Regions from separate parts of the Homo sapiens genome. Here region 2 is linked to region 1. The links come from fine-mapping of genetic effects on gene expression. A gene starts in region 1. The other region holds a variant in brackets. All regions are shown on one strand. Distances are between the middles of the regions. Region 1 holds the start of PIP4P2 (phosphatidylinositol-4,5-bisphosphate 4-phosphatase 2). Region 2 overlaps NECAB1 (N-terminal EF-hand calcium binding protein 1).

What was found. PIP is the estimated chance that this variant, and not a neighbour inherited with it, causes the effect.
Region 2: its variant is fine-mapped to the expression of PIP4P2 in fibroblasts (GTEx, PIP above 0.99).

Annotation. Positions count from the first base shown.
Region 1 is chr8:91,034,158-91,046,817 of GRCh38, forward strand. PIP4P2 (phosphatidylinositol-4,5-bisphosphate 4-phosphatase 2) reads right to left here and starts at 6,702. Exons shown (of 7, transcript NM_018710.3): 1 at 6,487-6,702. The coding sequence starts at 6,592. RefSeq lists a silencer at 6,724-6,923.
Region 2 is chr8:90,897,361-90,910,020 of GRCh38, forward strand. The region is part of intron 5 of NECAB1 (N-terminal EF-hand calcium binding protein 1); the gene reads left to right. All of the region lies in intron 1 of LOC105375634 (a long non-coding RNA gene), which reads right to left. Among named protein-coding and RNA genes, the nearest start is that of C8orf88, 82 kb to the right of the region's middle. The variant G/C (reference allele first, on the strand shown) is at 7,010.

The DNA of each region.
Region 1 (12,660 bases):
TCTGAAATTATAACGCTTACTGTATGTATCTCTCACAGGAATGTAAGCTCTCCAGCATCTGGAATACTGTAATAGGCATTCAAATATTTGAAAGGATGACTGAATGAAACATTTCTTAATATTTTAAAGATGCTCAGTATAGACAGAAGGAAATGTGGGCATTATAAAACAGAATATAAGAATCCTGGAGCCTGATGCCTACAGAATAATGACAAAAAGACTACAACAGCAAATGAGCTCACCACCATACTGGAAAGCTAGAAGCCGATCTATTTCACCAATGTGTGGGCTCTATTTTTCCTTGAAGAGGATGTGGCCTCAGTGAAGCAAATTTTGATTCAAGAACCATTTTGAAAAAAATTCCCTTAAATGGAGCATTAGCATTAGCATAGCACAATAGGCTTCTCATATTTGCCAAGGCCCTGCTTGCTCAGTATCACAGCAGGTGAACACTCTACTGGGGCTTGGGGGAGCTTCAGGAAGCTGCTCTCAAATATCCTGCATCCTTTTCTCCTCATTGTGACAATCTGGCTTCCAGTGGGTTTCCGAATCCTTGGCAAGTAAAGTGAGAATTTAATCTAGTCTTACAATGGGTTGTGCATGTGGTAAGAGTCCCTGGATCTGTGTCATCTCTTCCTGCCAATCCACAGACAACCTTATACTCTGCAAGTACGCAGGGAGACTCAGCAATTTAAAAGACTGCCAAAATGTATTCAATCTCTTTAATTCAGTAAAAGTCTAGCCTAGTGTAGAACATAGTTAAAAATGAACTAAGACCTTACCTAACTTTAAACTAAGACACTATCTCTAACCTTAGATTTCTCCAGGTATAGGACATGAGAGTCACTAAAAATAAACCTATTTACTGTAGGATTTCTAAGAAAGCATAAGAGTACATATTAAATGATATGTCTCAAAACCAGGAGTCAATTTATTTTATTTTTCTACTCACTGAAAACATTTTCTCAAGCAATTTCAAGATTACATGTTTTTTAAAGGTGAAAAGGATATGGCAATGTCTTCTAAAACACAATTATGACAATTACGCTTCATAGAAAACCTAAATGAGCTTCAGAGTAAAGGAATATTAACCTTTTCATTTATGTTAAGCTGCTTTGAGGTCAGTTTACAATTAAAATAAAGGTACATTGGAATATTACATTAGATGGAAATAGATAATTCTTCAATTCTTTAAAAAGAGCTTGAATATAAACAAATATAAACAACTGTCACTAAAGTCCCTAATGATCTCCATGACACTAACTTCAAAAGACATTTTTGGTCCTTACCATCTTTGCTCTTTCTTAAACTTTTGCATGAAGACTCCTTTCTTGAAGTATTTTCTTGCTCTTGACTCTGTGATATTATCATCTCCTGGTTTTTGTCACCTTGCCGGCAGCTACATTCACCTTCCTCTCCCTAGTCATTAAATGTGAAGGTTTTTCAAAGCTTTGTCCAGGCTTTCTCCTTTTCTTAGATTACTCTTTCTCCCTAGGTTATCTCATATGGAGCGCCTCAAAGTTTTTCACACTGTGGTACACAGAGAAAATGACAATATGTGTATGACATCTTAGAACTGGAGGTCGCTGGGCCTGGTGTGGTGGCTCATGCCTGTAATCCTGGCACTTTGGGAGGCCAAGGCAGGCAAATTGCTTGAGCCCAGGAGTTTGACACCAGCCTGGGCAAGCTGGTGAAACCTCATCTCTATAAAAAATACAACAAAATTAGACGAGTGTGGTGGCTACTCAGGAGACTGAGGTGGGAGGATTAGTTGGGCCTGAGAGGTCAAGACTGCAGTGAGCTATGAGTATACCACTGCACTCCGGCCTGAGCAACAGAGTAAGAACCTGTCTCAAGAAAAAAAAAACAAAACCAAAAAAACTGGAGGCCTCTGGCCTGAAGGCTTTAATCACTACCTTAGCACATGTATGTTCCATCACAGCACATCTTATGGTAGGGCCCTGGGAAGTTCTGAATCAACATCCATGTATTTAGCTATCACCAATATGCAAATAACACACAATTTTATATATTCAGCCCAGGCCCCGTTTCTTAGTCCTAAGAAACGAGGACTAAGAAGAGATATGACAACCGGATCTACACTACAGGTCCCATTTTGCCAGAAATGGGATCTGTAGATCCAATTGTCACATCTCTTCTTGGATATTTGAAAGCATCTGAAATACATCATGTCTAAAACTAAGTTCATTATCCGTGTTCCCCAAAACTCGGTCCTCTTCTGGTGTTCTCCGTCTTCTGGTGTTCTGGTAATCACACCATGACGTTGCATAGCCAGAATTCTAGGAGATACCCTTGACACTTCTCCCTCACTTCCATGTGCAATCCATCATCAAGCCCTGTTCAATCCACCTCCTTAACATCATCCTTCATCTCTCCATCTCTACCACCACCTGAGTCCAAGCTACTGAAATAGTTCAGTTAAATTGCCCGAATTATTACAATAATCAAGGAAGTCATCTATTCTTGTCTACTCTAGCCAATCCTCTAATTCATTCTCTAATCTATAGAGTGGTTTAAAAACTAATAATAAAGATTTAATCCAGTCATCCCTTTGCTTATGGCAATATTCCTTAACATGACCAACAATATCCTGGATGGGCTGATTCATATTCATTATTCTGGTCATCTGTTGCTGCAGAACAAGTTGGCCACATGTGGTTGTAGTAAGAATTTGGCTAAGGCTGGAGTCATGTGAAGGCTCAATTGAGCTTGGCATCCAAGATGGCATCTCCCTTCACATGTCTGAGGGCTGGTCAGGCATCTTTCTCTCTACCAGGCTAGTTTCAGGTTCCATAAAGCATGGCAGTCTCAGAGTGTTCCACTTCTTACATGACAAGTTACTTTCCCCAGAGTGTACTTTACAAAAGACCAAGATAAAAGCTGTAAAACCTCTTCTGACCTACCCTCCAAAGTCATTCAGCATATTTTCTACCTTATTCTAGAGGTCAAAATCAAGTCATGGCATCAGCCCAGATTCAAGGGGAGGAAACTGAATATCAGAAGACATAGTTCTTTGAAGGGGAAAGAGAGTCTTCGGAGAATATCCACCATACCTATCTCTCCAGTCCCATTTTGCAGTGCATTTCCTACTGCTGTTTCCATTTTAGCCACGTTGGCCTTCCTTAAGTTCCTTGTATTTGTCATACTCCACCCTGCTGATCACTTTGCCAATACTGCTTTCTTTGCCTATAATGGTCTTCCAGTCCACCTTTTGCCAAGTTAACTCTTGCTCAACTTTCAGATCTCATTCAAGCATCAAGAAAGCCTTCCCCGACTCCCTCAACAAAATTAAATCTTAATTTATACTCTCAAGGTATTGCATATATTTCCAGCACTGTCTTCATCACCATTGCATTTTGCATCTGTTTGTGTGATTACATAATTTATTTCTCAATACCCCCACTACACTGGAAGAGGAGCCATGACTATTTTTCTTCTCCTACCACAGATTTGGCTGGTACTCAAATATTTATTTGCTGAATAATAAACTAAGTAAATCAAACTGTCTGCCTCTGTATAACAAATTATTATTTTCCCTTTATGAATTATAGTGAAGTATATAATCCCATTTCCATATTGAATACATAATGAGACAACCCCAGATATAAACAATTTTCACAGAAAAAATCTTATAAATTCAAAGGTCATATTCTTTTGTTATATCCTAACTACAAAATTAGCAGATGTATAAAGGAATCAATTAATACATCAAAACTGTGTAAATTTTGTGGTATTTCTTCCAATCTCCTTTCAGATGAGCCTAAAACTCTCTTTAATTTTAATTTCTATACCTAAACAAAAACTGGCAAGTATATTAAACGAAGCACTGCAAGCAGGAGAGAAGCAATTTCCTATGCATGAATCCAATACTGACAGTAGAGAACACTAGACATGCTCCACTTAGAAACCAACATGGATTGTTACACAGACCACACATGATTTTTCTTGTGCTAAAACCAAACACACAATACTAACTGCTCCCTGCTACATTATTAATAATCTGTCTAGAAATAAACACTCCACCGACTTTCAACCTGAAATGGACTATTTCATCTTGGAGGTGGGAACTAACATTCCTGTACTTTAGAAGGTAAAAGAAAGAGAAAGGGGTCAGATTGGAGAAAATATTCACTAGTTATAGCTTTTAACTTCTTTTTTTAAAAAAATAAAAGTCTGAATAATTGTAAATGGGATCATTAACTAAAATTCATTATCAGAAAGTGCATTCTGTTTCTGATTGAATTCCAACTGTCAACCCTAACGGTTTTCAACTACCAAAAACATCTGATCTAGTGATAGAATTTTTTTTACAATCTGAAATAATTCAGCCATGTATTTATTTATTCTTTCTCCCTAATACAATATAGTCTTCATGAGGGTATGGGATTGATCACTCTTGTTCCCCTAGAGCAGTGTATGGCACATTGTGCTTCCCAATAAATTAATAAATGAATGAATAGTGGTGGTCTTCCAGATCTTGTGTATTACTCATAATATTTATTACAATGTTTGTTACTTATGAAGAAAAATATTCTGTCAAAATGCAAATAAAATGCTTTTACCTCTCATTTATGCTTCTTCCTTAGTAGGTGTTATGTCATATGAAATTAAGAGTTTCTCTAATCATCTAACCTGTCTCATTCACCAATTAAGAAAAAATGTATTCTACCATAAGGCAGAAGCAGCTTTTTGCTAAGTCATTGAATTTCTCTGGTTGTTAAAAGTTTTCTACAATGACACTACTTTTTCTCAGTGGCTGAACTGGAACTTATACTTGTGTAGTTTGAGGAATCTTATTAGGTTAAACAAATATATGGAAAATAATAAAGATGTCTATAAGCTGATCCCTGAGTGTAGCCATTTTTAAAAAATAACTTATCCACTAGTTGAGGGCATGAAAATAGGTTATAGGACAAATACTTAAATTGAAACTTTGTCTCCTAATAAACCGCCAAACATTTTGCCATAAAAGGCTGACTTGATGAAGTTGAAACATTCATTAGTGAGTGTTTAAGTCTATTCTACATAATACGATTTAGATAACAGTAAAATATTCATATCAAATTGGCCCATTAGAGGAAATTCTCTTGCCTGGTGTCCTCTGATACAAGTTTAATGCTGACCAACAAAAATGACCTGTAGGTTTTCTGTGGGCAAGTCTCTCTCTGTGCCTTATTTCTCAAGCCATGGCTCACACTGAATTATTTACAGCTAAGCATCTTTTTCCTTTGTTTTTCTTCTTGTTAAGTATGGATTAAGATCTAGATAGTTTATTTTGAAGTTACAAAATGTTAAATAGAAATTTTAAATACTAAGCAAGTTCAACCTGCTCTACATCAGCTCTAATTCCAGACTTGAACTTAAAAACTTGTATTACAAGAAACATTACCTACTTATATTTTCAAAATCATTAACTTTTGCTTCCTTGGGTTTTTAAACTTTGCTCATATTTAGCCAAAAAAAGAGAGAGATGCACTTAAGGAACATTTGCAAGTGCCATTTTGACCAATCTTTTCACTAACCTAAGTGGGTTTTTTTAAGTCTTGCCTTCCATTTTCTTGTAACGCCTGACTCCACCTTATTTATTTACTATAGTAATCAACTAAAAGGCTTAGAACAACGATCGATTTTTAAATAAATCGAATAGTATGGTAAATAGATTCCATATTTCTCCAGATCCCATTGCATTTAATCTTTTTTTATTCTTCTTGAGAAAAAAATAGAAATATATGTATTATTAATTTGGGTTACTTTTTACAAGTTAATTTCAATCTCACCCAGATATGTGTTAAAAATATCCCATCTTCCCTTCTATGAGAAGTAAGGTCCTTCCTTCTCATTCACAATTAAATCTAACACATACTCCTTGAAAGTAGGAGTAAAAAGGAGGGGCAGGAATTTCAGACATATTAGGAATATTGATTAACTGTATTCATTTTGGATATGGCAATTCACTGAGTGAACAGAGCACTGTTGGGTGAATGGTAGCAGAAGCATATTGTTCAAGCTAAAGCCCTTTCAAGGACAGATGCCAAGGTGAGCAATACTCCTGGTTTCTCAGCAACGGAAAAAGATTTGTGAATGATTGTGAAAGATTTGCACCACCTCCTAGCTGCGCTTAGGGGCTGTTCTGAAAACAGCTAAGCAGAGCTTGGGAAATTCATGTCACATACTGTAGCCCTGGGTAAGAAGTGGTGAAATACACACACACACCATCACCACCACCACCACCACCACCATCACCACCACCACCACCACCACCATCACCACCACCACCAGAAAAACCCTGCGGAGAAGCTATCAGGCAGGCGGGCTTGCCTGGGAAGGCACAGTCAGCATCCTTCCTCAGCCCAAGCGAGAGGCTCACCTCCACCTCCAAGCTAGAGCTCCCAGGTCTTTATCCTTCTGGGCGTTTCCTTGCAAATCTACTTCCTTGCAAAGTAGAGGGATCTACGCTGGCCTTACCTCTGGGGCTGCTTTCTTGCAAGTACGGTGGGGCGGTGGGAGTGACATTTCCGGAGTGGGATGCTGACAGCAGAGGCGAGCGTTCGTCCACCCCATCAGCAGCCATGACTGCGGCAGCGGCGGGGCCTGGGGAGGCCGAGCCGGGGTTGCGGCCTCGGCGGAGTGGTGGCTACTGCTGCTGCCTCTGCTGCCGCTGCTGCCGCTGCAGCTGCTGCTGCTGCCGCCTCCGGGAGGGCCCGGGATGTGTCACAAGGCAGGAAGCGGGGGGAGGGGAGGGGAGGGTGCAGGACCAGGAGGCGGGGGAAGGGAAGCGCGCTGGGAGGCATGGCTGGGGGAGGGGAGGGGAGGGAGAAAGAAAGAACCCGCAGAGTGGGAGGAGCAGCAGTGGAGGAGCGGGAGCCCAGCCAGCCAGAGAAAAGGGGAACAAATTAGGACCAACTGGGAAACGCGAGGAAAAGAAGATGCCAAGTAACTGAAAGGGGGTCGAGAGTAAATGGGATGGAGGGGGACAAGTCCTTTGCTCTAGGAAAGACGGATAAAAAGCAGCCTGAAAGGGGCTAGCGAAGAGGAAAGGCCTGTGACTTGATTACAAGAAAACTGGAGCAAAAGCAGATTATCAAGTTTATCTCCCCTAAGGAGGAGGAGGGACTGACTCTTTGCTGTCAAACTTTGCAGCAGTTATATAAAGAAAACATCTTCCTGGGGTTATCAATTCCTCTAGGGTTTTTTTGTGGGAAATCAGTTTTCAACATCTGTTATCTAAGAGAAAGTAGATCTTTGCGGAAGTGTCAGCATTCCCTACTTTTCCTGATTGATTTTTTTTAACAACAGGAATGTTGGCCTGACCGGTTTGGAACTCTGGTAACAGTACCTTTTTGGAACTATGCAGTGTGTTGCCTTTTACAAGTTTCATTTTACAAAATAGGTTGTCATCTTAGTTTTGGTTTTGTAGCCTATTGTCCCTGACACATATACAGTAAGTAGGTTTATGAATAACGTCAAACAACGAAAAACAAGTTTCTTGAGACAAAAGTTTTAAAATAATCGTTTACTTGTAAAACAGAGTTAAAACACAAAAAACCCTAAGCACTGACAAAGATTCTTTGCTTGGTCAAACAAGTAAGGTTTCTGAATCTTATGCTGGGCCCATCTGCACTTCCTTATAAAATCCAGTTTTAGCAAAGAACCCTACTAACTTAATTTAGCAAGAAGCCCCATTCTCAATATTGATATTTGATCAGGTTCCTCATCCTCCAGCATCCCCCATGTGAGGCCTGAACTCCTGTTCTGTCTTCAGCAAGAATCCCGTTTGCTTGGTTTAGTCAGAATCCCCCTTATCCCTGATATTTCCTTGGTAATTTTCCATCTACTGCCCCTGTCCTGCATGCTCCTAGGCTATAAATTCCCACTTGTCCATGCTGCATTCAGAATTGAGCCTAATCTCTTCTTCAACATGGCAAGACCCTGCTGCCATGGTCCCTATACCTATCACTATAGCCCTAAATACAGTCTTCCTTACCATGCTTTGACAAGAATCACTGAATAACTTTTTTCTTTAAAAACACAGTTCTTGCCATGTTTTATATGTTTTTCTTTTCTTTTTTATTTGGTGGTTTGTCATATTATCCAAAAGTAGTTTACATGAATATGAAAACAAATTAAAGTTTTGAGGCCAGGCGTGGTGGCTCACGCCTGTAATCCCAGCACTTTGGGAGTCCAAGGCAGGCAGATCACCTGAGGTCAGGAGTTCGAGATCAGCCTAACCAACATGGAGAAACCCCATCTCTACTAAAAATACAAAATTAGCGAGGCGTGCTGGCGCATGCCTGTAATCCCAGCTACTCGGGAGGCCGAGGCAGGAGAATCACTTGAATCCGGGAGGCAGAGGTAGAGGTGAGCTGAGATCGTGCCGTTGCACTCCAGCCTGGGCAACAAGAGTGAAACTCCGTCTCAAAAAAAAAAAAATAAATAAAGTTTTGAACATGTCTAAATAAAAATGCAATAGAAAAATAGTAATGATCTAGGATGATAATTTTTCTGCAATAATTTTTGAGTCACTCAAAAGAAACATTTATTACTCATTTACTAAGTCTAAAAGATAACTACGACATGATCTCAATCCTCAAGATGCCTGAGAGAGTCAAAAACAAGTGGAAAATGAGGCTAGCTGTAGATTTCAGTGAGCATGAGGCAAAGCAGAAGTTAGACATACGAAACTATGTTTCAAATTACATTAGGAAGGATCCTCACTCTGCTTTCTAAAGATACATTCTTTCTTCCAGAAAAATCCACTTAGGCATCAGCTGGAAATCCTAAGGGGAAATCAAATAATGATGTTTGCACTCACGCAGCATCTTTTGTGGATCAGTAGCATCAGGATACAATACAATATAAGGATCCCTATATGATATAAGGGCATTTCTAGGTCTCCAGGAACCTGGAAAGTACAGAATCAAGATGTAGCACTTCCTGCAAAAGTGCCTGTAATTTACAAAAATGAACAGCAGTGTTTTTATAACTGCAGCCTGGAGACTATTGAGTTAAAGAAAATTATGAGAAAAATCAACAAAATCTTACTACTATAGTATTCTGTCGTGTTACCTGTCACACTCCATTGTGACAACTCCAGCCCCAACCAAATTTCTGAGGTCAGAAACCTATCTATCTTATTTATAACTAGATCTCCAGTATCTAGCACAATGCTTGGCACATTAGTAAACACTCGATATTTGTCAAATAAACAATTGAGTGAATGAACAAATATACACAGTCCCAGAATCTTACTAAAACAAAATGTTTGGCACAAAAAGATTAAGAACATTTCTTGGCATTTTGATGAAGATGACAGTTTTGCCATCTGACTGATCAATTTTTTTATTCCATCATACCTCTACAACTGTCTTCTTTTTTGCCCATGTAGTGATCAGTATAAAGGTTTTTTTTTTGTTGTTGTTTGTTTTTTTCTTTACTTCATTATATGGTTTCTCTACTGCAGAACTCATTTGAGGCTCATGACAGTTACTCTTCTTACACTACAAAAGGTAGTAGATATACTGAGATTATATTTGCAGCAATCTCAACTTCCACAAAAAGCAAAAGGCTTTTATGAGATGAGTACTACTTCATTCTAGGTTAAAGATCATACTATGGTTTATGGTTTCTCAATAGTTGTTAAATAATACTCATCAATCCAAGGTATTTTTATGATTATGATTATGATACTTTGCCATCTCTATTCATGAGATGAGCTAATGTGTCTATTGGAATAAAAATACTCTATAAACAGATAATATGTGAGATCTAATGTACTTAAGCTGTTGTTTCAGCGATCTACTGCTAACAAACCATACCAATACTCAGTGGCTTAAAACAACATGAGTTGTTATTTTCTATGATTCTGTAGTTGACTGGGTGGCCATTCTGTCAGACTTGCCTGAACATTCAGGCAGCAGCATTCAGCTGGCAGGTTTGCTGGGGGCTAGGCTCAGCTGGGAAATTTGGGCTCACTGGGCAATTCTCTTCATGTAGTCTTTATTCCAGACTTCCTCATATACCTCGTATTCTCAGAACACTATTCTAAGAGGATGATGGTGGAAGGTAAGGGATCCCTAAGATCTAGGCTCTGGTTCTCAAACATCGCTTCTTATCACATTCTCCCACCATCAATGGCTTTCTCAGCCTGCCTCCTGCTTGGAAAAAAACAAGCACCTAGAGGCCTCGTCATGATCAAAGGAAGTCACAAGGCTGGTGGAGGAACAGATTCCATCACTTCAAGTGAAGAGTAGCAATGTCACAATGCAAAGGGGTGTGGAACACAACAAGGCATGATCCACTGGATGCTATTATATAACAGTCTACCATAGTCTGCCCACTGGTCACTGTGGTTCACATCCCCCTCACAGGCAAACTACACTTATCCACTCCCAACACCCCAAAGTCTAGTTTAATCACTAAAGTCAACTTTATGTATCTTTCACCTAAATCCAATCCAGGTGCAGTCAAAATTCCTGGGGGATAATTCCACAGGTCCAGCTCCTTGGGTACAGCATCTGTTGATCCAGAGACCTGTGAACTAAAAGGACGAAGCATGTGCCCTTCTTCTCTCCCAGCCGTCTCAACCCCCAACATTTAACAGTGGAACAAGAACAGGATAACAACTGACAGAAGAAGGGGGAGGGGGCATTCTGAATAGAAGGTACATAGAACACACGGGACCACAGAATTCTGAAATCCACTTGGGCCCATGTCACCAGCTCTTTTGACCCCAGAGGCATGTAATGCTTCCTTATTAGGGCACAGTCTGCCTCTGTTGCTACTCCTTTTCCTCATCTGTTCCTATATTTGGCTCTTGGCCCTTCCCACTAAGTCTGGTCTTTTTCATAAGAAATGGCTCCTGTTTGCAGCTGCATACCTTTCTCAGCCTGCCTCCCCGCAAAGAAAGTTGGGAACCCAGAGGGCTCTTTCCATTTTGAACTGCCTCTGTCCCTTTTAATCCAAATTGATACAACTTCCTTAGAAATGTGTAGGCCTTTCCAATGAATCTGAATGGGGTTTACCTCATGCCCACAAAGCCACAAACATAATATTTTTTTTGAGACAGGTATTTCTCTATGTTTGGGTCACATTTGAGGCCCTTCAAATTCTTAGATGCTCCCTTGTCTATTTAAGGAAGTCTCCAAGTCACTGCTTGAGTCTTTCAGAGGTCTTCAGGGAGGGTTTTACAGCCATATCCCTGATTTGAACTTTATTCTGAGGCCATTTCTTACATCAAGAATCTGTTGCTGGATGAAAGACTGTCTTAAGCCCCCTATATTTCCTCTAAATTCAGTTGCAAACTGGAAGTTCCTACTTTAGTTCATTTCTGTGGTTGGCAAAATAATGCCTCTCCAAAGATGTCCATGCTCTTATTCCCGGAACCAGTGAATATTTTACCTTACTTAGCAAAACGGATGTTGCAGATATGATTACAGGGTGCAGACCTTCAGATGGGAAGATTATCCTGGATGATCCTTGTGAGCCAAACCTAATTATGAGTCTTTAAAAGCTGAGAACCTTTCTCAGCTGTAGTCAGAGATATTCACAGGAGAGATTTAAAGTGAGAAAAGGACTCAGCCTACCATTGCTGGCCTGAGGATGGAGGAAGAGATCAAGGAGTATGGGTGTGCTCAAGAAGGTGGGAAAGACTTTCAGCTAACAGCAGCAAGGACGTACAAATGTTAGTCCTAGACCACAAGGAAATGGATTCTGCAAACAACCCAAAAGAGCAAAGATATAGATCTTCCCCTAGAACTTCTAGAAAGGGACATAGCCCTGCTGACACCTCGATTTTAGCACTATAAGAGCCATGATAAACTTCTGACTTGCAGAACTATAAAATATAAAATTTGTATTAAGCTGCAAAATTTGTGGTAATTTTTATGGCATCAACAGAAAATGAAAACTTTCTCTTAAAATACCTTATTTAACACAGCTAAAAGAAGCTAGTTGTCGCTTTTAATTTTCTACATGGAAATTAGTGAAATCAACAAGTTCATTAGGAACATTTTCTATTTTCTAAGTTACTACAGGCAACAGTTAATTGGTGCACCTCTGTTTTTCTAGTCTCCAATAGCAATTTCCTCCCTACTCTTCTAGTTTCACATACTCCTCCTTAGTATTGTTCTGTGCCTGGCCCTTAAGACAATGCCATATACTTGGGGTTTTGTTACAGCAATATCAATTTGCTACATTTATCTATTGCTTTGTACTTTCAGTGCCAACTTCTAGTGGATTTATCTGTTGCTTTCTATTTTTAGTACAATATTCTGTTTTATTTATCTATTGCTTTATAAGAATCCACCATCCTAAAACTTAGTGGATCAATTGTCAATGTACTGTATTTTTTTTTTAATAATCATTAGGGTTAATCAGGTAGTTTTCTGCCAAGTCTCACCTGCACCCACTTAGGCCAATGCATTCAGCTGGTGGATCAGCTGGGGACTGATCTCAGCCAAGAAATCTGGTTGGCTGAAACTCTCTTTCCAAATGCAGTTTCATTGTGAGTTTCTTCATTGCATGACAGTCTCGGGGTAGGGTCCTTGGAGGCCAAAGGCAGTTGCTGCAAGCCCTCATAAGTCCAAGGTTTTGGAACACACATGGCTGCATCTGCCACATTCTATTGGTCAGAGAAAGTGA
Region 2 (12,660 bases), 140 kb before region 1:
GCAAAACTACCAATATGGTCATTACAGGGTACTGCTCTAGACCCTGCTGTGGGTATTATATAATTACATGACATATGCTAGGTGTTACCTCTCTAGACCCTGAAAAATTCTGAACTTTGAAATGTATCTGGCTCAATGGTTTCAATAAAAAATTAAGATGGCTATGTCATTATATATGTTATGGAAATGGATGTTCTAATTATTTTTTCAGACTATCAGATTGCATGCTTCAGCAATGCTGAAATGTAATACTATCTTATGTTTAAAAAACAAAGTAAAACAAAAAACTATCAATTCTTTGAAAAGTTTATTGCATTTCAAAGAGCAGTCAAATAATATGCATAGACAAGTGAAAATTGACCCCCAGTGGTCTGGGGAAAATGTAAATGAACTTATTAACGTTTCAAAAATGACACTTTAGGAGACTCAACTGATAATGCTTGTGGCAAGTGTATTGGCGTGAAATAAATGAAGAATGCCTTCATTTGTAGGCTTAATTTACTAAAAGAAATCAGGACTTACCTCCTGTAAGTCACTGTTGGCAGATGATTTAAATGGCTGTGAGAGTAATCATTTGATTTAAAGAATAATTCCTTTTTATGTTTTACTATTGCTACAGAATAAGATTATCATCTCTTTATAAGCTTTTTATCCTCTGTCATTTTCTGTAGTAGCTTTCCTACTTATAGCCTGTATCTTCTTTGGAGGTAATATGACCTCAAATTTGTTCCTTGCCTATAGAACATCTCTGTAATCAAATTACAGTTGAGAAAAGCCCATGATTACACACCTCACTATCAGGCTGCATTTTGAGTGATAGTGGAAAAAAGAACTACCAAGCCTGGCTGCTCCCATGAGAATAAGTTTAGATAGGAAGTCAAGGCTCACCCCAATGCTCTCTCTCAAGTCTCACCTCCCCTCTTCCATCACTACCACCACTCAGTGCCCCAAATCCAAATTTAAAATATAGCCTTGTCTTTAGACTTAGAGTAGCACAACTTTTGTATTTAAATCAATATTGTCCCATTTCACTGAGATTAGACATCATATTAACTATTTGGGAATCTGTAAAACCACAGGACCCTAAAAAATTAACACATTTGATATTTGGGGCCACCTAGAACTGACAGTCTCCAGAAGGCCTAAAACTTCAACAGAAGTAGCAGCTCCAAGTGAGTTTGAAGCCTAGTTGCTGCTTGGACTGTGCTTCCTATTCCAATACCCCTGTCTTCTTCTCTTGCCTGGCTCATTGCATCTTCTATAATGCCCAGTATCTCATACCCATCTGTCCTTTTCACACTTAATTCAGTGTTTATTGAGAAAGAGACAGCTACTATTTATTGAGCATAATACATGTTGACCACAGTGCATACATTATCTCAATTAGTCTTTTAGCCCAACTGCACTGAGTCACTCTCACAGTCAGGCACCTGGTACATGGTAGGTACACAATCTACTTTCCTCAGCTCTCTCTTCACCTTCCTAATAGTTCATTTGTCTCATCCCAACTGAGATTCGTTCATGTGGCACAAGTATTTATGGAATACTGTGTCTGCTCAAATCCTCTAGAAACAGAAGCCAAGTGCAAGAGATATGTTGGGAGAAATGCCCTTGGAAGGTAAAGGGGAGAGGGAACAAGAGCAGTGGGAAGATCCTTCAGGCTGCCCTGCAGGTCTGGCACCTGTGAAAAGAGGAGGAAATGGAAGTTGGGCTGGCAGAGAGCCTCTGACAAAGTTTTGGCTATGCCAGTGGGACGCCCGAGGGCAAAGACTGCTCATAAGAGGAGTCCCCCCTGACTTACACCATCCTTAGTCCTTGGCAAGGAATACTGGAGAGGATGTGGCTTCAGCATGAACACTGCTGATCCCCAAGGTGTGGCAGCTGGAGATGGGTAGTTAAGCATACTTAAAACAGTTTCTCTCTGTGGTCCCTTGGTGACTGCCATAGTGTATACCAGGATGTGATTTGAGGAACATGGGCAAAAATTCAAGAATCTGTGAAAATTCAGCTTTAAAGATCCACTTCTCTTACTCTCAAAGGTTTTTCAGTCTTTAAGAGTCTAGTCTTTACAAGTTTTTAAAAGTAAATATCCCTGGGAATAGAAAGATCTAAAGTCCTAGTTACTGAATAACTTAGCAGAGGGTAGTTAAAAGCTCACTAAAAGTAAAGAGATGGGACCCAAAATTTATTTGAGCTGGAGCAAGTTTAGAAACTCTGGAACAGAGAGATGTGCAGAAAGAAATAGTGATGAACCAAAAACCAATTCCCTAGGTTTAGCTTTGCCATAGTTTAAAATATGTTGATGCTCAAATCTTGTCCCTCATGTGTGTGATATTGTACAGTACATTTGATTTTTGTATGTGTTTATTATACCTTTGATTCAGAAAGGTTTACAATGCTTCCTTCTTTGTCATAAGAAACTCATAATTCAGGTGGGTGCTTGTTTCTTATACCAGCATGAAGCTAAACATAATAGTTTGAAACTATTGAAAATATTGAAACAGAATAGTTCTGAAAATATTATTTTCAGAATATTCTGGGACCTTAACTGCACAGTATGTAGGAAGAAAGGAAACATTCCTTCCTCCCTACAGTCTGATACACTAGTGAGAATAATAAGCATTACTAAAACAACAATGAGCACTCAATGGGGAGCCTTGAAGAGTACCTTAGTGTTTAATACAGTGCTGTAAAGGCATGAACCTTTCCCCTGCCTTTCTCTATGAGTAAACTTAGTGTTGCTGCATTTTCCTTATTAGAATTATTTTCATTTCATTAGTAAAATAGGCAGTTGTTCGGGAGTAGAGCAACTGACCTTAGTCTTTATATACCAATATGGGATGATTCAAGGGTCATGTGAAATGTCAAGCTACACACAACAGAACAAGCATAATTCTGTGTACTCTGAATCTTCCCACATTGATCACTTTTGAGGCCAGAAAGTAACAACAGAAGGGTAGAGTAGGCATGACAGAATTGCTTCACCAATGGAACAAAGAGGAAAAATGGTTCTTTTCTTCTTCAACTCTAGATGAACCAGTGAACACAGACTTAGCCAGTTCCAGGATGGAAACTGAGCCCCATGTTCTCATTTCATATATTTGAGAAAACAAACACAAAGGGGTTAGTAGACTTGCCTAAAATCATAGTATGAGTCAATGGCAAAGCCCATAACCCAGTGTAGAATCTTATCCTCTATAAGGGTAGGAAAAGTATTATTCAGAATTGGGTAGAATTAGTTCTTTCCCTTCCAATCACTAAACTGTTAACACAATGCCTCTTGGGAGCATAATTAAGACTATCACTATAACCTTCCAGGTACAGGATTCTTTATCTGTTGCCATGGCAAAGGAGCAAAATCTAAGCCCCTGATTAAAATGAATGCTTTTGTAAGAAATAATCAAGATCCCTGTCAGGGTTTCATCACGCTCTTATACTCTTTGTCATTTTTTTATATGACCCCAAGCCTGGGGCTCAAAGTGCCTACTTGAAATTTCTTTTTGTTGTTTGTATAATAACTGAATTAGTTTTGCTCCAGCAGTTTCTTGATGATTTTTCAGTAAGATAAAGGTACTTTAATCAGTCTAAATACTTGAACATTTTTATTTCAGTGGTAAAAAATAGACTGAGGCAGAGTGAAGTTATAAATTAGAATCTAAAAATTTACCCTTCAACATTAATATTTTTTAGTGCTCTAATATAAAACACAGAAAACCTATCTCAAATATAAAAGATGAATATAAAATTATTAATTAAACAACTGGCAGCCTGGAGATATTCATTCCAGCATAGGCTTTGATAAATCTTTTCCTGAAGGCAGTTAAACCTTTTTGAGAAAAACCTTCTGAGGCTGATATGATTTAAGTCTCTCTGTTAAAAAAAAAAAAAAAATGGTGTTTATAAATTATGCTGCCTTTTTGCTACTCTCAGCTTAAATAGATGATGTTTCCTTTCCTTTTTTAATTGCTGGTTTTCAGCTTTGAAAAGCTTTCCTTCCAGCGGTGCCCTCAAGGGCACAGTTTTATAATCAAGAGCCTTTGACCCTTGTAGCCTCATGAGACTAGAACCCACTGTTTCTCTCCAGGTATGTTTAACACAGACCTGGGAACAATCGAAAAGCTTTTCGTGTTTTGTGCTTTAAACATCTTTTGATAAAATGGTGCAGGAAAATGACACCAGTATTCTAGTCTAGCCGAGGAGAGCTATGTGGTCTTCAGCAAGTCTCCTTAATTTATCTGGCCTTCCTTTTGAAAATGAGCAATTTGTATTCAGTGGTTCCTTCTAGCTCTATGTCTTTAGTGGGTTTGCTGATTGCCTGTGAAATTTGTATAGTACGACCATTTGACCCTGAATTTTGTTTTTCGCTTCAACAGACTATGTATACTCTGTTCTTGTCATTAATTGAATAGTATCGCTCTCTCACACTAACTTGAGCCTTGTAGTTACACACATTTAATGGAGGAATGAGAATGTTCCTTCATTAGCAAACCCTATCTATATTTAGTGTTTGGCTAAAACCTCGTTTGCACTCTCTGTATTTGTGTGTGTGTGTGTGTGTGTGTTAATGTTACATAAGTATTTGTTGAAGCATTTTAATCTATACTGCAAAAGGATGTTTTATTTCCTTCTTTAATGTACTTTGCACAGTTATATTTACAAAGGAATATTCTATAAATAATAGAGGTACTAATCCACATATTTTATTCTTTCTCTTAAAAATAAGAAAAGCCTATTTTTTGAAACTTCTCAGATTGTTCTGTTATGAAACATCACTACTGGCTGGGTGTGGTGGTTCACACCTGTAATCCCAGCACTTTGGGAGGCCGAGGAGGGTGGATCACTTGAGGTCAGGAGTTTGAGACCAGCCTGGACAACAGGGTGAAACCCTGCCTCTAGTAAAAATACAAAAATTAGCCAAGCACAATGGCACATGCCTGTAGTCCCAACTATTCGGGTGGCTGAGGTAGGAGAATCGCTTGAACCCAGGAGGCAGAAGTTGCAGTGAGCCAAGATCCACTGCCACTGCACTCCAGCCTGGGAGACAGAGTGAGACTCTAAAAAAACAAACGAACAAACAATTATTACTATTAAGTTACATACGTAGAAAAGGAGTCAATTGAATTACGTTGTACTTACTAATGCAAAGGGGCTCTCTGTCTCTCTTCATGTGTGTATAACACACACATAAATTATATATATAATGTACCTGTACACACATTTTACAGTTTATATTCTATAAATGTTCAAGTTTATCAATAGTTAAATAAATATAAATTAAATTGACAATAAAACATACTTCTATCAATTAAAAATGTTTAAAATAATAATGCCAATTGTTCAAAAACACAGGAAAATGAAGACTCTTAAACATGATAATGGGACTTTAAATTAGTACTACCTGTAGGAGGGCAAACTTAGTGACCTTCTACCTGTAGGAGGGCAAATGTGAGAAAATATGTCTCACATTTTCAATTTAGGTATTATTCTACCTAGTAATTTCATTTCTAGAACATTAACTCGGAAATAATTTAGTATGTATACAAGGAATATTCACCATATAAATGTTTATACTAAGAAAAATTAGACAACTATCTTTAGTTTATATTCAACAATATGAGATTGATGAATAAATTATAAATATAAAATATACTATTTGGCTATTAAAAACTATATCATATATGAATACAATTGACATGGAAAGATGTATGTATTTTTATGTGCAAATAACTGATTTAAAATGTACATGTAGTTGGTTTTGAAAAAACAATATATTATAGATATTTCAATAGCTTTATTGAGTTATAATTTATATACCATAAAATTAACCAAGTGTAAGCATACAATTAAATATTTTTATTAAATTTATAGAGTTATACAACGACCACTGCAATCCCATTTTAGAACAATTTTTTAAAAATATTTTATGTTGCCAATCTGTATTTTCTAATTTATAACATTGCTACTTCAAAAGTGAAAGTTATTTATATTTTTAATTTAAAATTTTCATACAGCTTTATCTGCAGAAAAAAACATGTCACATATCTTTTCAACCACTTTAGTCTGTAATTGTAGGTTTGTTATAATAAAAGTCAGTAGAGTTTTAAGGTAGTTACTAAAAACAGTTGCTTTTTATTTGTTAATTTTTTCTATGGATCAATGATTACTTACTCATGAACAAAAAAGTCAAAACTTACCTGTTAGCTATCTGACTTTAGGCAGATTACTTTATCTCTTATGACAAGTTTGGGAGGTCCAAATAAATGAATCCATAGAAAATACTTAGCAACTTCTGTTTATAGCAGTTTGGGGGAAGAGATTCTTTCAACAATTCTGTTGCTGAAACAAACTAAAAATAATGGATAGAATATATTTTTACATTTCTGAAATGTATCCAAGCCCTGGCAAGAAAGCAAAGACTTCTCAGAGGCCAAAATGTAAGTGAAAGAGGGAACACAAAGAAATAAGCAGTAGGAAGTGGCTTTAATTCATTGACCTTACATTTCAGTTTTGAAGACTTTCAGCACTGGGGCAAGAGAAAGCGTAGCCACCAGCACCCCGCAAGGTAAGGATTCTGATAACAACCTTCTGCAAAAACTTGGAACCCAAAAGCCTTTACTGTTCCTCGAAAGGAAAGTTACCCCTAGTGATCCAGGGCACCAAATAAACAAAGGGGGAAAGAAGTCTGCCCTGAGAATTTATAACTGCAAGTCAGCCCTCATGTAAATGTGCAGGCCAAATCACTTTCCTGGGTGGAGGGGAAAGCCTCAAGCCAAGAATTTAATTTAAAATTATTCCAAGATGATGGTGCCCCCAGATACTGGACAAAAGCAAAATCAAATTCTCTCTTAATCTAGATCTGGTAAAATTTCCACAGATTAATCCTGCAAGGAATATGTACTGAAAGCAAAAAAAAAAATCTCAAAACATACTTCAGACAGTATTAAAAGACTTTATATATTGAAATCATCAGCTAAATAATAAGTATGTTAATATATTTATATAAATATAT[G/C]TGGGATTAAAAATAGGAGAAATGAGCAAGATATAAAAAAGACAAAACAAATTTGAGAAAGCACAAAAAGATTTGCTAAACATTTAAAAAATACAATAATTGAAATGAAAACATCAGGAAACCAGTTTTACGGTAGATTAAATAGAGTAGAAAAGAGAATTAGTGAACTAGAGGACACAACTGAAGATACCACAGAGAATGTGACTTAGAGAGACAAAGATTTAGAAAATAGAAAAGAAGTTAAGAGACCTAGAAGATTGAGTGGGAAGGTCCAATATACCTCTAAGCAAATTTCCAAAAGAATTAATGAGAAAATTAGCAGAGAAGACAAATAATAAAAAAAATTGTATATCTATAAACCAACAATAGTTAGAACATGTATAGAAACCTAATTTATGATGGATCTGGCAAAAATGTATAGAAATCTTACTTGTGAAAGAGCTGACATGACATATCAGTGCCAAAAAAAATACTGGACTGTTCAATAAATGGTGCTAGAAAAATGACTTATCTATATGAAAACAAAAGAGTTAAATTCTGAATCCATACACAAAAATCAATCCCAGTTTAAGACTTACATGTGTAAAAATTTAAGTTTTAGTATAGAAGAAAATAGTTTAATGACTAGAGTAAGAAGGATTTCTTAAACAAGATGCAAAATATAAACTATACCTTTAGAACATAGTATGGCATAACTTTCACTTTATTAAGTTGTATATCAAAAGACAGCACTTACAAATTGAAAAAACAAACAAACCAAGAGAATTTGCAAAACTTAACTACCAAGGGCTGGTGTTAAAAACATTTAAACAAATGCTATAAATCAATAAGGAAAAATTAGAATACATAATAGCAAATGATTTGGCAAAATACAGGAACAGGAACTTCAGAAAGAAGCCAGGGAAAGTCCAATATAGCTATGAAGAATTACTGAAACTCTTGTTTGCAGAGAGTTGTAATGTGCAGTGTTGGGCAATTGTGACTTATCTTAAGCCAAGTTAGTGCAGTGGTTCAAGAGGTCCGTGCAGATAATTTAGCACTTGTACCCTAGAGTTTAAGTGTCTGGTGGAAGACAGAAGAGCAAGCCTGCACAGTTAATAGCCACAGGTTCATAGGCAGTTGGAACAAGGATTCATACATATTGTTTTAGCTGTGGATTTCAAGAAAGGAGAGAAAGAAAAAAAATTGCAGATTAATTGTTCTATTATTTTCTAAGGTTTTACTATATTGCATCTGGGTGCTAATTTCATCTGTGCTGCTGGGCATCTGCTGTGATTTCTGACTCTGAAGAGTCATACCTTTGTTTAATACTGCAAAATTATCAGCAATTGTCTCTTTTCTGTTCTCTTTGTTCTCCTCTTAGAACTCCTTATATGTAAGTTAAATACTCTCGTTCTCTTCTCTGTCACTTCTATTTCATATTGTTCATCTCTCTGCTTCAGTTTGGATAATTACTTCAGATTAATATTCTAGTTCCTAATTATTCTTCATCTGTATCTAATCTATTTCACATATCCATTGGATGTTTATTTTTTGGAAGTTCTTACTGCCTCTTTTGAAAACTGCCCGGTTTCTTGCAATAGTCTCTCACTCCTTTCTCCTGCTTTTCATTACCCTTTTTATGTCTTTGAACATTTGAAGCATATTATCGCTGACTCTTTTTTATGATACTTTTTTTCTTTGTGTGATATGGATATGTGCGGGTAGATTGGCATTTTTCCACTATTAGTTTATACTTGGCTGATTAAATCATTGGGGATTTGATGTATTTCTTTACGGAGAATATGTTTTTGTTTATGCCAGCTGCCTCAACATACTACCAATACAGAACTGAGGTGAGTTAATCTCTCAGTTTTGGGCTTCCCTGAATATGCAGGTATAGGAGTTCGAACCTCAGACTGCTGAGTGGACTGAATCTTGATTTTAGGTTTTCAGGAGAGAGTTTTGCACCCAGAATTAAGACTGAGAAGACTTATTTGTCATCTTCCTTTGTTCACGCATAGAGTTTTTTTCCCAGCTCTCTTTTAGTAAAAATGTGGTCCTTTGAGTGTTCCAGCTTCAACCCCCTACCTTGACTCATCCTCTGTTCTTCCAAAAGTTGTTAAAATCTGGAACTTAAGAGTCTCCAGTTAAAGAAAATGCCTACAGTAGAGCAAGGCCTTCAATGCAAGATTACTGTCAGTCTCTTTGTCTCCTGTTCATTGTTGACGCTCTTGGTTTTCTCTTATGTTCTTAGAAGCTTTGTTGTACATTCAAATAATATTTGCCACACTTTACCTTTTATAGTGCATTCTATAGAAGGAGTATTTTAGGATACTTAACTAATCCTAATGCCAAAATTGGAACTTTCAGAAATTTTGTTTAATGTAAATATTACCTTCCAATTTATCAATAAGACATTCAGAACTAATTTTAAGTAGTCTGTATAGTCATCTAGAAACCTTTTTCAGAAAGGAGGATGCAGGTAGATTTGAATAATCCACCTTTTCCTTACATATGATATACACATATATATATATATATATATATATATATATATATCTTCTCACTTTATTGCTCTGGCTGGAGTGCAGTGGTGCAAACATGGCTCACTGCAGCCTCGACCTCCTGGACTCAAGCGATCATCCCATCTCAGCCTCCTGAGTAGCTGGGACCACAGGCACATGCCACCATGCCTGGCTAATTTCCCATATCATATATATTTTTAATAATGAAAATTTGAGGGTCTTTACTTCTTATAATCCACCCAATTTTGTGTGTGTGTGTGTGTGTGTGTGTGTGTGAGAGAGAGAGAGAGAGAGAGAGAGAGAGAGAGAGAGAATTAGTAGACTGCATTGTTTTAGCTAGCTAATACTATGAACTCTTGGCTTATTTTTCCAGATGACCATTAAAATTCCAGTTAGCTTCTGAGCCTGTCTAGATACTCCTAAAATGCCAGGAGACCTTGACACAAACTCAATGCTAAGAAAGGCAAGCCCAGGCTATGATTTCAGGCTATAGCCAGTCTCTTATGTTACCCAGTCATTTTCTTGAACATGTGTGAGAAATAGTGCTGTCTTTCAATCCTGATTTCTAAATGTGGGATATAGAACACAATAAAGTTACAGGTACAGACAGATCATCCACACCCCTTGCTTTCAGTCACAGGCCATATTGAAATGTAATAAAAAATACAATGTATTTCACTATTTCTAGGATACATATGTTTCCTTTTTCTGACAGCTATGAAATTGGGATATATCTATCAATTGATGGTGCATAAAAGTTAACTGGTGATATTGTTATTTCCTTGTGGTGTATAAAATACCAAAATAGTGGTGCATCTTATAATTAATGGCACTTTATATTTGATGAAGTACAGTATTTTGGTTTTTAAATCCCACTGGAAAAAAAAGTCTTACCTGTTTGTTATTCTGAGCAAGTTATCTATTCCCAAAGGTTATTTTTTCCTGAATAAAAAATTACCAGAATATTTTGGTATTCTTTCATAGTGAGCCACAAGGGAAAATTAAATCCAGAAATGTGTCAGTTTTCACATATTTATAAACTACTATTTTCCATACACTATGCTGTTTAGAAATGCTCATAATATTTTAATGTTCAATTATTCTTCTGTCACAAAATTTGTTTAGATCAAAAGCAAGGATAATTCGCCTTTGAAAGCACAGAGATCATATATGATATTTTGAAAAATGTATTTGTGTCTGACAAATTTAGTAACTTAGGCCTATTAACTCAACATATTATAGGACTGTGGTTAAAATAGAACTATCCATCTGACACATATACTGTTTAGGAACAGTAACATTACAAATGAGTGTTATCCTTTGAGTATCATTTATGTCAACTTTGTCTCATGTGTATTCCACAAGCTTAAAAATGATATTCAAAGAAAAGTGTGTGAGCAATAAGGTGGAAAGCAGTGTATTTATGGGGAAGAAATTTTGGTGATATTTTATCATCAATATCAACAAACATAAATTGAATCCAATTTATGTACGAACATAGTTCTGTGCTCTTCATACTTAAAAACGTAACATTTGGTTCTACGTTACACTCCAGAAAAATGCATGCTAGCAGTTGAGAAGATGGCATATAAGAGGTGTTAAAAATTACTAATTTGGAAGTGTTTACAGATTTTCTTGTCCTACTGCCTGCCAAAGAGTCCTGTATTTTACAGCCCCTATCTGTCTACTCCACAGCTCCTCAAACATATGAATATAGTATATTTCTACTAGACTGGTTCCTACACATACCTTAACCTTTTTATTGTAAAACAAAACAAAAAGGAAAGCCACACAAATCAAATGTAGAACTTCATGATCATAAGGCAAACACTCTTGAATCCATCACCAAGATTTTAGAAACCTGACCTACCAGTTACCCCAGAAGTCTTTCCACATGCTCTGTCCCAATTATGATTCCTCCTTCCCCTGAAAATAACTACCAATGGATCCTTCTAGTAGTCACTTCCTTGTGTTTTATTATGGTTTTATTACACAGATTTTCATTCCCAGAAACTGTAGTTAAATTGTACTCATTTTCTCTGTATTGCATTTCTTTTAATTTATAGGCTATCTTGCAATCGCTTTTATTTATATATTTTTACAGTTTATCCGTTACAGAGCCCAGAGAGGTGCTTATGCTCATGGTTTAGGCTTTACTGATTGCCAATCATGGTACAAGTAAGCACGTTCTTCTGAACTCTATCTTTGCTAGAAATTGTCAGCTAAATCCAGAGGCTAATTTGACAAAACTATAGTGGATAGTGTGTTCTCCTGTCAAGGATCACATCTTTTAGTTGTTTTTATTTTTGAGGTTGGCAGCCTTTGATACTCAGTGACTGAAATAGTGATCAGCAAACTCCAGCCATTGGCCAAATTCTGCCAGTCATATATTTTATATGGTCTATGAACATAGTCCAACTAATTCAGTTATATCTATGGCTGCTTTCATGTGATCTCTTGTTCACAAAATCTAAAATATTTACTGTCTAGGCCTCTACGAAAAAAAAAAAAATGTTGCCTGGATCTGGTCTAGATCACCAGTATTTATGTTGAAGTCTCCCTGGTTGTTTTGGTTGTCTGCAGCTCATTTTCTAAGATTCCTGAGGAAGGGCTCACAAGAACAATATTACCTGAGTTTTAGCATGTTCACAATTTTCGGGGACCGTTTATACTTAAAAGACAATTTTTCCTGATACAAAATTCTTGGCTCTATTTTAAATATCTTAAAATATGTTACTACGTTTTTTTCTGGAATAAAAGTGTTGGTTTTGGAAAACCTTGTGGTAATCTAGATTTTATTTTGTTTTGTTTTTTACTCCATAAGTCATTTGCTCTATATGTCTCCATGCATGAAGAATTCTTGCTTTGTCAGTCCAGCAATTTTATGAAAATATGTCTTGATGTGTTTGTTCTGAGTCGATATTCTCATACATATGGCATACTTTCAGTGTTTAATATCAAATCATTTTATTTTAGGAAAACATTCTTGAATAATAGTTTCTAGTGTTATTTTCCTTTGTTAGTTTCTATCCTTCCTTAGAAATTCTATTATCAGTATATTGTATATTCTTTGTATATTCAACATTTGTCACTTCCTCTCAAATCCCTTTTATTTGTTTTCTTTGTTATTTTTGATTTTAAAAG